Regions from separate parts of the Homo sapiens genome. Here all the other regions are reported to be linked to region 1. The links are microRNA targets in miRTarBase. Many come from high-throughput screens and were not tested one by one. Region 1 holds a microRNA gene; each other region holds the end of a gene's coding sequence.

Evidence for each region. Region 1 holds the annotated microRNA hsa-miR-1245b-3p (UCAGAUGAUCUAAAGGCCUAUA, at 1,485-1,506, opposite strand). A microRNA usually pairs through its seed, bases 2 to 8, with sites in the 3' UTR of a target mRNA and lowers its output. Matches are read on the target gene's strand: a 7mer-m8 pairs with bases 2 to 8, a 7mer-A1 pairs with bases 2 to 7 and ends in A, and an 8mer does both.
Region 2: the mRNA of C6orf89 is a reported target of hsa-miR-1245b-3p. Seed matches in the 3' UTR shown: 7mer-A1 at 1,102-1,108 and 7mer-m8 at 2,593-2,599.
Region 3: the mRNA of EVC2 is a reported target of hsa-miR-1245b-3p. Seed matches in the 3' UTR shown: 7mer-A1 at 506-512.

The regions. Positions count from the first base shown.
Region 1 is chr2:188,976,615-188,980,969 of GRCh38, forward strand. It overlaps MIR1245B (microRNA 1245b), which reads right to left and starts at 1,547; the gene lies at 1,479-1,547. The region is part of intron 1 of COL3A1 (collagen type III alpha 1 chain); the gene reads left to right. MIR1245A (microRNA 1245a) reads left to right here and starts at 1,478; the gene lies at 1,478-1,547. The region is part of intron 1 of LOC105373791 (a long non-coding RNA gene); the gene reads right to left.
Region 2 is chr6:36,922,585-36,926,939 of GRCh38, forward strand. C6orf89 (chromosome 6 open reading frame 89) reads left to right here. Exons shown (of 9, transcript NM_001286635.2): 9 at 763-4,355. The coding sequence ends at 857. Among named protein-coding and RNA genes, the nearest start is that of PI16, 30 kb to the right of the region's middle.
Region 3 is chr4:5,559,330-5,563,329 of GRCh38, reverse strand. It overlaps EVC2 (EvC ciliary complex subunit 2), which reads left to right. Exons shown (of 22, transcript NM_147127.5): 22 at 215-891. The coding sequence ends at 482. Among named protein-coding and RNA genes, the nearest start is that of LINC01587, 37 kb to the right of the region's middle.

The sequences.
Region 1 (4,355 bases):
TGGGGTTTCTTATATATGCCCTCATAACTTCAGAGACGGCACAGCTCTAATGAACACTCACTTCTAGTTCACTCACAGGCATTTTCTGGATACAAACAAGTCCTCAAAAAGAATTTTGGTCGTCTTACAAATTTGTGAACATTGTATTTAATTCATGTGTTTTAATCCACCAATGGAGAAACATAGTCTGTTTTATATTTCCTGTAGATTATAAACATGCCAAGTTTTAAGTACAAAGATGCGTCACCTAGTGGCTGACAAGCCAGGTTACCATTTACATAACGAATGCCAATATTAATGTTATGTAGCTGGCTTTGGTAGTTTATAATGAGCTTTAAAAAATTCATATGCGTGAATTTTAAATGTTAACACTGCTCTCCTAAGGAAATTAGTATGTTACGGATAAATATTGCAAACACATATACTGACACGAAAACACAATGGTAACAATATTCAGAGTCTTTTTGGAAATTAGCTTAAATGTTACGGCCACTTAAAAATTCTACATATGACTATTGTTTAAATACATTTTTCATGTCTCTGATGTAGTCCTTATTTGACATAAGTATTTTATTCACTGCTTAATTGTTAGATAGATTATAGACAGCTGTTACTAAGTAATACTGCTCCATTAGGGCAGAAACAGAAACTTTATTTTAATTAAATGTGTACTAATGTTTGAGTTTCTATATTTTGCTACAGTGATAATTCCAGTAAAATAAACTGTAGGCCTCTAGTTGTTTTAGAATTTTAAAACTGTAAATGGACTCAGAGAATCAGTTTCTTATTAGACGTCATGAGAGTATATTTTTTTCATTATGCTTTAAGAGGGAATTTGTAACTTGCTCAGGTAACATTCAAGTTTTCTGGTTTGTGTTTGTCCCTACAATTAAACACACTGAACTAACAGGAAAAGGTTACATACATTTAGGAACAATTGCACTTTTAAAGGGAGAGAATGCATAGTTGCTCACATATCTCAGTGTCAGTCACCTAACATGGATCAGTGCTTTATTTGAGATTACAAAACTAGAAAATGACGGAGTCAAGGCTAGGACCAATATTCTGTTCAGTCTTAGATAATTATAGAATACACATTAAAATCAGATATTTGAATTTTCTTAATTTTGTAACTATTTGTCATTGAAAGGAGATACTAAAAAAATTATATATCGTCCTAGAAAGTACATGAACTAATAATGCATTTCTAAAGGTGAAAAAAGAATAGGTATTTTTCTGTTTAATATTCAATTTTATAGAGAGTAGTACGTTAATTTTTTTAAACCCCAGAAGCTCAGGATCTTATCATTTTAAAAGAAATTATCACCAGTTCTGTGTGAGTAAATAAAGTATTATAACACTTTGTGTTTTTCATCCATGATACCTTGTATTTACTTACCTGAGCTTTTTTTCTAGGGAAAGAAAAATGCTCAGGTAATAACAGAGCCTTGAAAAATTTGGATTTTCAAAACTACCTATTTATGTATAGGCCTTTAGATCATCTGATGTTGAATACTCTTTAAGTGATCTAAAGGCCTACATATAAAAAGGTATTTTTATTAAATTCTGGAATTAAACATTTCAGCATTACAAGAAAAGAAAGCAAATCCACTGGAACAATTCTGGGAAAGAAGGAAAGACTGTGATTAAATGCCTCTTAACTACTTCAGATTCCTGGATTGATGTCTTATCTACAGGCTTCTTTTTAAAAATCAAGAATGATTGGCTGTGAGTTTACCAGGATTATAGTTGAGGCTAAAGGACAGCTCCTCAGGAAAGCCCCTGTTCTACATCTACGGTCACATGCTGGACCTTGAGTTGTCACTCAGAGAAAAGAGTGCCATCTACCGAAACTCCACAGTTTCCATTGTGAATGGCTTCTTTGGTGCAGAGTTCCAAAAATTATGTAGCCCAGCTCTTTAATTTTGTAACATCTAATGATATCACCGCCTTGAAGTGATTAAAGTAGATTGCTTAAAGAATTAAAGCTTTAAAGATGAAAGATGTTATTGCTTTTGCTGGACATGAGGAACAGTTGTAAAGTTTCCAGGTCTACAATAACTTTCTGGAACCCTCTCAGTGAACTGTTTCTTGTAAAAGTTTTCCCTAAGATAAAAGCTCAATCCCATTGTTTCCACACTCAAAAAAAAAAAAAAAAAAAAGATCATATAGTGTAAAAAAAAACTCTCCAGACTTTTCAAAGGGGAAACTTTGCCTGTTTCATGTCAAGATGACAACGGAAAAAATGAGATAGCTATTCTTACATAAATCATTTGTGAACTGCAGTTGGGGGAGTTACATTAACCACCAGAGTTTCAGTCTGTGTCTAATGAAAACACAGCAGAAGTGGATTCCTTTCAGATTAACTAATAAAACCCTTGTTTTTTTCCATGACTGAGGTCAAGCACTGCTGTTTAAAATGTAGTCTTAATGAACAAAATGAAACGTTGAAAGAGGACGAGTCAAAATGCCCAAAAGATGTAAACATCAAAGAGAAAAGATCCAGAAATTATTAAAAGTTAAACTTCCCTTGAATTCTAGTATTAAGAAAGTACTGCTTCAGTAAAATGGCATATATTTTTCTGAAACTGTTTTTCTATAGTATTTTGTGTGGAGGATGACAGAGACTGCATTTCTCAAGTAAATTAAAATCACAGAAATACTCTTTGGAGTTGCATAGCATGTTCACAACGTTCCAGTTTCATTCAGTGAAAACTTCTGATGAACTTAGATGTATATTAACATGAATCATTTAGTAACTATATTTTCTGAAAAACAGTGTGTTAATGAGACATCTTAAACATATTTTTGCATTGGATGCAGAAGTCTTTTCTGTCTGGTACTATTGTTGTTAGAACCCTACTTTTTTGTATATAGCAAAATGTATGCAGGGTTTCTGAGTCACACATTTATTCTGTTGGTGGTCTGGATGTCATCAGGGTAGCTTTAGAGATATAACCCTTCTTCATAAGGTCAAGAGAAAATAAACAGGAGAATTTAACTCCAGATGGCATCTTCCTGTTTTGAGGCCAGATAGAAAAATATTTTGCAAAGAACTGTTGTCCTTCAAAATATACCTATCTAGATTCAGATTTTAACCTTGCAGGGATAAAAAATCATATGGGACAGAGCTTTGGAGTTGGCTTCTTTAATCGTACTCAGTTTTGAAATAGCAGAAAGAAAATAGAATGCAGTAATTAAGAGTATCAAATTTAGAGAAAGCCTTCTTACACTCAGATCTTCTTTTTCACCCTGACTGTGTAACCTTGGGAAAATTACTTAATGTTTCTGCAGTTAAGATTCCTCATCTGTAAAATTAGGATTATGACAGCTGTAAGCTCATAAGGCCTTTGGGAGTATGAAGCAAAATAGATATTCAAACTACTCAGAGCAGTCCCTACAAGATAGGAGGTACTATAGCACTAGTTTTACTAACGCTGGCAAATAAAATTACTCTAAGGAAGAAATTAAAGTACTTAGTAACTTAGTGATAAGGATGGTGAAATGTAAAATTTTATTTATAAGACTATACAATTTAAAGTTGTTTGCCAAATGTAATAAGACAAGTAGAATATATTCTCTTCAATGTTTTTATAATTTGACACTAAGAAGATTTTATTATATATGCAATTGCTGGTGGTTAGATATATGATACTTAAAATTTTCTAATTATCTAATTATTTTTATTTTTAACAGGATAAAATATTAATCAACTTAAAGGACATTTCTAAGGAGATTGAATTCTAAAAGATTAATCTTTTAGACAATTCTAAAAGATTAATCTTTTAGACAATTCTAAAAGATTAATCTTTTAGACAATTCTAAAAGATTAATCTTTTAGACAATTCTAAAAGATTAATTGAATTCTAAAAGATTAATCAACTTAAAGGACATTTCTAAGGAGATTGAAAAAGCATATATCTATAAAATATGAAACAAGAAAATATCTACAAATGATAATTTATCAACTTTTTTTCCTGGAGGTAGCAAGAATAAATAAAATCTTATTTTCTATGCAAAACAGTGCTTTTAAATTAAAATTATTCACCTAGAATGTCTACAGATACTTTCTTCAGAGTCCTTTTTGTTAAGTAATCTAACATATTTTAAGATACTCTGATAAATACATAAGCAGCAGAAAAAATATTTTATTAAAATTTATGTTTTCCAAACAATATCATTTAAAAGGCAAACCAAACATTATTTCAATTGGAAACTATATGAATGCCAAATACCCACATGTACAAAATATTCAGCTTTCTAAAGTAATGAAAATAATTATGATAATTTATATATCATATCTGTGATTCTTAGATTTTCAGATTATACAACATCTTTTCCCAGATAAGGATTTA
Region 2 (4,355 bases), not on the chromosome of region 1:
AATGCCTGTCTTGTTGATGCATAGTACATTATTAGTGTATCAAAGATGTTGAAAAGCCTTGGGGAAACCTAGTGTTTCTCAGGCTTACTTGGCCATGGAACCTATTTTCTTTGGAATATCTTACAGGACACTACTGTTTGCCAAACCCAATTTGGGCAATGCTGGTTTAGGTTTAGGTTAATCTGGATGTTCTGTAATGAAACCACATTATAGATAGACACAGGAAAATTGGCTAGTAGGTCTTGTGTCCCCTCGGAATCCATTCTGTCTTCTTGCTGTAAAAGCTGAGACTTGATGCCCAACAGCAGCCTCATCTAGAGCATCCTGCCTTTGTAAGCCTGCTGAATTGTGATTCACAGTTCCCTGGGTGAGGGGTGGTGATAAAGCATTTAAAGAGGACTGATAATAACTAGGAATACTTATGCTAGGAAGTGCCAGAAGACTTTCAGAGCAATTTGTCTTTAAGCCAGGTGTAGTGGCCCACACCTGTAATCTCAGCACTCTGGGAGGCTGAGGCAGGAGAATCACTTGAGCCCAGGAGTTCAAGACCAGCCTGGGCAATATAGTGAGACCCCTATCTCTTAAAAAATAAAAAAGGAAAGAAAAAGAAAAAAAAGGAAACTAAATTAAATAGAAAAAGATTTGTCTTTGACTCTGCAGTGCACCCTGAGGGCCAGCTCTGGCAGACCTGCCTTGCTCGTGCCCACAGGTGTGCCCACCCTCTGACATTTACATGCCTTCCTCTTGCTATTTCCCCTCAAGGCTATGTCGACACCACCCACTGGAAGGTCTACGTTATAGCCAGAGGGGTCCAGCCTTTGGTCATCTGCGATGGAACCGCTTTCTCAGAACTGTAGGAAATAGAACTGTGCACAGGAACAGCTTCCAGAGCCGAAAACCAGGTTGAAAGGGGAAAAATAAAAACAAAAACGATGAAACTGCTTTCTGGGGGTTGGTTACTTAGTTACCTGCCCTTTGCATGCATGTGTGAACCAGCTGTGAGCTGCAAGGCAGTGGCCAGAGCCTCGCCCTCCTGACTCTTCCTGCAGGTGGCTCAGGAAGGATTCAGCCTGGCCACTTGGCTAGGACTCTGCCAGCACCCATCTGAGACTGACCTCTTCCGGGCCTTTGGACACTATGACCTTGATGCTGCCCTTCAGGCAGGAAACAGGGCTGGTGCCTTTCTTCACCTGCATGGCCAGCTTCCTTCCCTGGCAGTGGAGAGGGCAGCCAACAGGTTCTAATGTCAGAGCCATCCTTTACCAGGTGGGCCTGCTTGTCCCTGTCTTGCCTGCCACATCACTCTACTTTTTGGAAGGCCATGGCTGATTAAAGAAGTTCTTGTAGTTTCCCAAGCAAAGTGGAATCTAGAAACAGTGAAAAAAGTTCAGATAACTTTGAATTGCATTCAAGAAGTACACTTCTTTCCCATTGTCCGTGGCTCTTGGAGTCTCCGTGATGCCAGGCTAGAGTCTGATTATATAATAATTCAAAATGGTAACTCCCAAGGTAATGCTTTCTTCCATTTCATCAGGTTCTTTTATCCCCACTGCACCCCCTCCCCTTCTCCCTTGCCTATCTGGATGGCTTCTCAGAAGCTCGGCCCTAGTCCTCCCTGCCTTGGCGGGGCCAGAGCCCACTACTGCTGAGGCAGCACTGCTCTCGTCAGCTGTGTTGCCTTTACCAAGTGTCTTCAGAGGGTTATGAGTTAGAGTAGCTGGCCTGGGGAGAGGGTGCCTCCCTGGGTTTGATCTTTAGGGTCTGACTTTCTGCAGAGAAGATGTTTTACAGATGTGTCAAAGCTGATGTAATGTGGTTGGGGGAGGAAATCCAGACCCAAAGTGTTTGTCAGCTGGGTGTACAACTGCCTATGTGATCCTCTGTCTTAAAATGATTTCTGTCTGTGCTGCGAAACAAAGACAAGGTGAGGTGTTTTTCTTTTTTGTAATAATATAAAGCTGTGTGTTTCTGATTGGATGATTCACTATGTGCATTGTTTTCTCCTAAGTGCTTTTAGTAGGTAGCAATCAAATGGTGTAAATAAGGATGTTCTTTTCCTGTTCCTTTTATTTTTTTCTCTCTTTATTATTCTTTTATTGACACCACTAGATAGCTGGCCACTGGTCATGCCATTGCCAAGATGAAGAAAAAGCAAACTACACTTTGGCCTCTGGTTCTGAATTGCAGAAATCAAAGGATGCAGTAGGTGTCTATGTCAGAATTATGGATCAGAGGCAGACAATGACGAGTGAAGATGGTTGTGAAGCCCTCTTCATTCCTGGAGGAGCCTGCATCTCATCTCTCAGGCCCTCTTTCTCTGTGGGTCTCATGAACAGCAGTGGGGACCATTGAGCACTTGAATGGCCTGTTTGTCTATGGGCTTGCAAAGGACAAGCAGAGTTCACAGAGCTCAGGATAGAAACATCAGAGCCTCCTCCACGGGCTTCAGTGAAACTCCGATGAACTGTACCTGAGGGAATTTTTTCTTAATCAACCCCTTGTGTGGATGAATACAGGAACAACAAAACTTGTGTACGTATGAAAGTCATGTTGTTAAGCAGTTATGATTTAAGAGGTTTTAAGTCAGAGGGATCATCTGGAGGCCGGCTTTGTGCAAGCTTTTACAGCCTTCTGCAGTGTCCTTACCCTGGCTGTACATGGGGAAGGGCTATGTGTAAACAAGTGCTTTAGAGGCCTCTGAGAGTTTTTAAAAATCAGACCCATTAACAAAAGAGAGGGTTTCTTAGGAACAAAGCAACTATTTTGATTACTGAGATCTCTGTTTTGTTTCTGTGAGTTACTCTGTATTCCTTTCCCCATTTCACTCTTGCCCTTCACATCTTAAATGTCCATAAGAAACCCTTGCATGTGTTGGTATTCTGAGGCATCCCGTGGGAAAGTCCCCTAAGTCCCATTTTGTACTTCAACAAAAAATGACTGTAGCAGAAGATAAGTGGAGACTTTTATGGATATACTACTCATTTTACTTAAAATCTACCCAGTTCAGACTTGAATGTAAACTTGTATTAGGGGAAAATTCTCCAAAGAGGGTTTTCTACATACACAGAAGCAGTTCAACTTCTCAAGTTAATTTTGATAAGCAGAATCTACTACTGGCCAGAGCGACAGGAGTGGCTAGGGGTTGCCAGCCAGTCCCTTTCTGATGATCAAGGCCCTGCACAGCAGGATGCCACAGGATGCCCCTGCCATCTAGCTGGAAGCATCAAAAGTCCCTCTGTATGACCCGGTGTGGGAAAGAGGGTTGTCAGGATGAGAAAGTGGGGCTGCAGGGTGACGATAAGACCACCTAACCAACTCCCCACCTCCACCACCACAATAAGAACAAAACTGTAGGGCTCTAAAGAGAGGGGGTGGTTTACAAGTTTATTGAGCATTTACTAGGAAGTGACATGGCGATGACCTCTGTACATGAGTTAGGTTCACTTTCATGTGGCCTCCCACTACAGAGATGCGTATGCCCAGAAGTCAGCTCTCTGAGGAGACAGGCTACTTTGGCCCCAGTTTGAAGCATTCTGTCCAAATGTCCTGAGCTCTCCAGCAGTCAAGTAGTGAATGGATACCATACTTATTATGGTTGATGAAAAAAGGCAGAGCTTATCCTCAATTTTTTTTAGGGAAGAGAAGGAATAAAATAAAAGTGGTTCAAGCTGGGCATGGTGGCTCACACCTGTAATTGCAGCACTTTGGGAGGCTGAGGCAGGCAGATCACTTGAGGTCAGGAGTTCAAGACCAGCCTGGCCAACAGGGTGAAACCCCATCTCTACTAAAAATACAAAAATTACCCAGGCGTGATGGTGGGCGCCTGTAATCCCAGCTACACAGGAAGCTGAGGCAGGAAAATTGCTTGAACCGGGGAGGCGGAGATTGCAGTGAGCCAAGATTGTGCCACTTCATTCCAGCCTGGGCGACAGAGCGAAACTCTGTCAAAGGAAAGGAAAGAAAAGAAAAAAAAAAAGAGAGAGAGAAAAGAAGAGGGGAGGGGAGGGAAAGGGAAGGGAGGGGAGGGGAGGAGAGGAGAGCAGATTGGGGGGGCTCATGTTCTGAGAGAAAGGAATAATAGCATTTGTCTAGTACATTCCAGTTTACAAAGTGCCTGATATACATGATCTCCTTTAATCTTCACCCAATCCTGTAAAGTAGGTGTTAGATCCCCATTTTGCAAGTAAATAAGTGGAGGCTTAGAGCAGTTAACCGCTGGCAGGTAGGTAGCTGGTTCCATAGCACATCATTTTCCTGCGGCATCACGGCATGGTGCCGAAGAAGACAGCTGTGGATGTCGTTGACTCAGATGTGCCTCCGTTGGGGTGGGAGAACCCAGGGATGGGGGTCAGCAA
Region 3 (4,000 bases), not on the chromosome of region 1:
ATGAGCCAGGAAGAGTTGACTACAGCACACCACTGTTACAGGCTTCAGCTAATTTTACAGCAATCTGGTGACCAAGGGGGAAAATAACCTTTTGTTAAAATGGCACTGGGTTGGGGAATTCAGGACCCAAGGAGGGATTCTCTTGGAGAACTCAGAACACTCCAGAGGGTTCATTGCCAAAAATATTGAATTTGATCTTTTGCTATTTCTTTAGCATATTAAAGAAGACATGTCTCCCTCTCAGAGAGAGGATGATATTCTCTGGAAAAGGAAGTTGGCCACACCTGTCACTGGAGCCCATTGGCGAACTGGCCCCTGTACCCATTGTAGGGGCAGAAACCATTGATCTATTAAACACAGGAGAGAAGCTCTTTATATTCAGAAATCCAAAGGAGCCAGAGATCTCACTGCACGTTCCTCCCAGGAAAAAGAAGAACTTTTTGAATGCCAAAAAGGCCATGAGGGCCTTGGGCATGGACTAGCCCAAGGGAAAGACCTGCGGGAGCATCTGAAGAGAGAAGGGATGATTTTCTCCTGCCCGCCGGTGTTTGTGTGTTTATAATGCACAACTCGCAAATATAAATTGCACATGCAGAAGGCACAGACCCCGTAGCGCATGCCAACTTGCAGGGACTCGGTTTAATCTTGTCTCATGAATTTCCAGATGGCCCACTCTCTTCCATATCACAAGGACATAAACACTCCTTCTTTCAGCCCCACCTCCCCAGGGCCCTGGAGGAGACCCCCACCCTGCAATCCACACCCCATCCTCTGCTGCAGAAGCTATGGTCTGTGTGGTGACAGCCAGATTCTCTACTCTTATGTTTTGTATTTGTTACATATTCTATTTTTATAAAGGGAATTTTAAAAAATAAATGTGTTTTGCACAAAGCTGTTTATTACAAAACCCATGTTTGCTTTATGTAGGAAGCATTTATTTGAAATTACGTCTTACGTTTTGTTCCCTGTGTGGTGTTCAATAGAGAGATTCGCCCTCTATCGCTCCAGTTGCCAAAACATGTGTCAGCCCCTGGGGTCTACCGTCACCAGTTCAAATCAGGGTTATCTTCCCATTTTACAAATGAGGAAATTCAATGGTATGGAAAACTGAAGTGATTTTTACAAGATCATAAAGCTCATAAATGGCAAAATCAGGATTCACACTTCATGGCCCACAAACCTTATCCTTTCTCCTGGCCTTGATCCATGGACACATAACAGCCCTCACACAGTTACCTATAAACAGACTCCATACAAGTGCTTGTGTTTTACCAAGAGCTTGTGTAAATGCTGACCCTTCCCATCCACACAGCAGTGCCTGAGGCCAGTAATATCTCACTGGGGCTGGGCCACATCATGGTGTCAGCCGGGCAAATAATACAATTACAATGGGTATTCTCTGACAGTAGGGGATGATTAGGATGAGAGTCCTCTCACCAGCAAGGGAAAAAAGCGATGACTGATAAAAAATCAAACATCTGTCATATGAGAGTTGCTGCTAGACCCTTCCAACAACTTTAACCTACTTTTTAATGATCACTAGTACCCCAGCAAGGTGAGTATCCCTATTCCCATTTTACTGCCAAGGAAGCTGAGACTCAGAGTTTAAATAATTTGCCTATGATGAAACCACCTATATGGGAGGAATCCTCAATTTGAACCTGAGTCTTCTAACTAAAATGCTTATCTGCCATGGATGTCCCTTTTCCATGGGCAACCAGAAGACCAAGTCTTATTTGCAGTTTCCCATCAGCATGCATGCAGCACCCCAACAAGTACCTTCGCTGGGGTTGCACTTCTCCCAGGGGACAGCAGCTGTGCACCGTTTTCAGCTGCCACTTGACTGCATGACTGCATTGGTAGAAAGGTGCAGGTAAGCAGTTTGAATGCAGGAGAGAAGAGATGATGGCGCCAGTTTTCCCATCCATCAGAAGGTCCAGTGGGCCTCGAGTGAGAACAGAGAAAGTGGAGTGATTTTTACACACAGGACAGCAGAGTGGAGCATGCATGGTCTTGGGAATAAGCAGACTGGAGTTCAAATCCTGCTCCACTACTTAAGGGCCATAAGTTCTTGGGCAAGTAGATATAATTGAATCTGTAAAGTCCACCACATCTATGTTCTTCTCTACCTTTTTAAGGTAATTGTCTGCATTTCTGATAATTTCCTGCTTCTACAGGGGCTCTGATAGAATTATGCATAGTTGAAAGTAGATTGCATGCAAAAATTTCAAAAAATGGCTTAAAATTATAGGCTGAAGCCTGATTGAAGAGGCTGTTAGCAACAGCAGGAGGTGCCCAAGCTGCTCAAAATCTAGCATTTGAACCTAATAATAACTCCTTATGTTAATAGACAGAGAAAGACTAACTGCTGATTTACCTTTTGTAAACTCACTGCACAAAAAAATGCCAAGATGTGTTGGGGAAAGCCTGTGTTTCTGGAATCAGATAGACCAGGTTTAAACTGTGGCTCTACAACTTTTTAGCAGTCATTTTACCACTCTAAACTTCAGTCTCTTTATCTGTAAAACAAAGATCCTAATGTCGTACTTTACAGTAGGGACGTTGTAAAGAGTGAAGATACTAGATATTATGTCTGTAATGTCTGATGAAATGTTGGTGTGCAATAAGGTAGCTTATTTATTTTATTATATTTTAACATCTTTACAAAAATCCATCTGATATGGTTTGGCTCTGTGTCCCCACCCAAATCTTGCCTTGAATTGTAATCCTTATAATCCCCACGTGTCAAGGGCAGGACCAGGTGGTGGTAATTGGATCATGGGGGCGGTTTCCCCTGTACTGTTCTCGTGAGTGAGTCTCACGAGATCTGATGTTTTATAAGTATCTGGCATTTCCCCTGCTGGCAGTCCTTCTCCTTCCCACTGCCCTGTGAAGAAGGTGCTGTTCTTCCGCTTCGCCTTCTGCCATGATCGTAAGCTTCCTGAGGCCTTCCCAGTCATGTGGAACTGTGAGTCAATTTAACCTCTTTTCTTTATAAATTACCCAGTCTCATGTATTTCCTTACAGCAATGTGAGAATGAAGTGTTCTTTCATTCCTTTTGCCATTCTAGGTGAAGGCTGTTTTCTTGAAGGGCTGTATCTTCACACAGAAGCCTACTCATGAGAGAGAAGCTCCAAGGAACTTGGCTTGAGAGGACTTGAGCTCAAGTTTGGGGTTTGTTACTTACAAGCAGGGGCTCGGCTCCCTGTGTATTCTGTCTTTAAGGAGTTCGATCTAGTTGCGTTGACTAACACAAAAATAAATAATTGGTAAATGCAAGGTGTGAGACGCACATACGAAAATCCTGCCGTGGGAATTTGGGAGTGAGGTCAAACCTGGCAGGGGTCAGTTGGGGACAGCTTTGTGCTTACGACTCCCCCAGATTTCCACACTGCAGTCTTTGTAAGGAAGTCACTATGAGCAGCACACATTTAAGGAATGGGGACATAAGTCTACCTCCTTGAGGGCAAAGTGTCTACATAGATTATTTGGAATTCTGCATGGGAGATGATCTCTTTTCCATTTATTTTTTCAATTATTTATTTCTATCGGTATAGACTCATGGATATTTATTTTATACTTTGAGTTATAATCCAATAATAATTTGTTGCTCTAATTGTTCCAGCTTTCAACATTGGGAGCTCTTTCTGTTGTCTCCCATATCCCTTTAACATAACCCCGTCAGTGCAGATTTTTATGTTTTTCCGAGTACTTCCTTATTTTCTGGCACTAGAAGGTGGTCTAAAAGGTGAGCATTATAAAAGATGAGCACTAGAAAAGATTCGCATCGTTTATATTCCCTGTCCCAGTCCTAGAATCAGACATTTCTCCAAGGAGTCTGATTCCTTTTGTTGGAGAATGGTATTAGAAACTAAACTCTGAGCCCTAGTTGTGCTTATTGCTACTGGAGTATTGTTACTTCTAGGCCTCTAAGCTGACAGAGCAAGAAAATATACATGTACATACTAACCTGTTTATATACACATGTCCGTTAATATT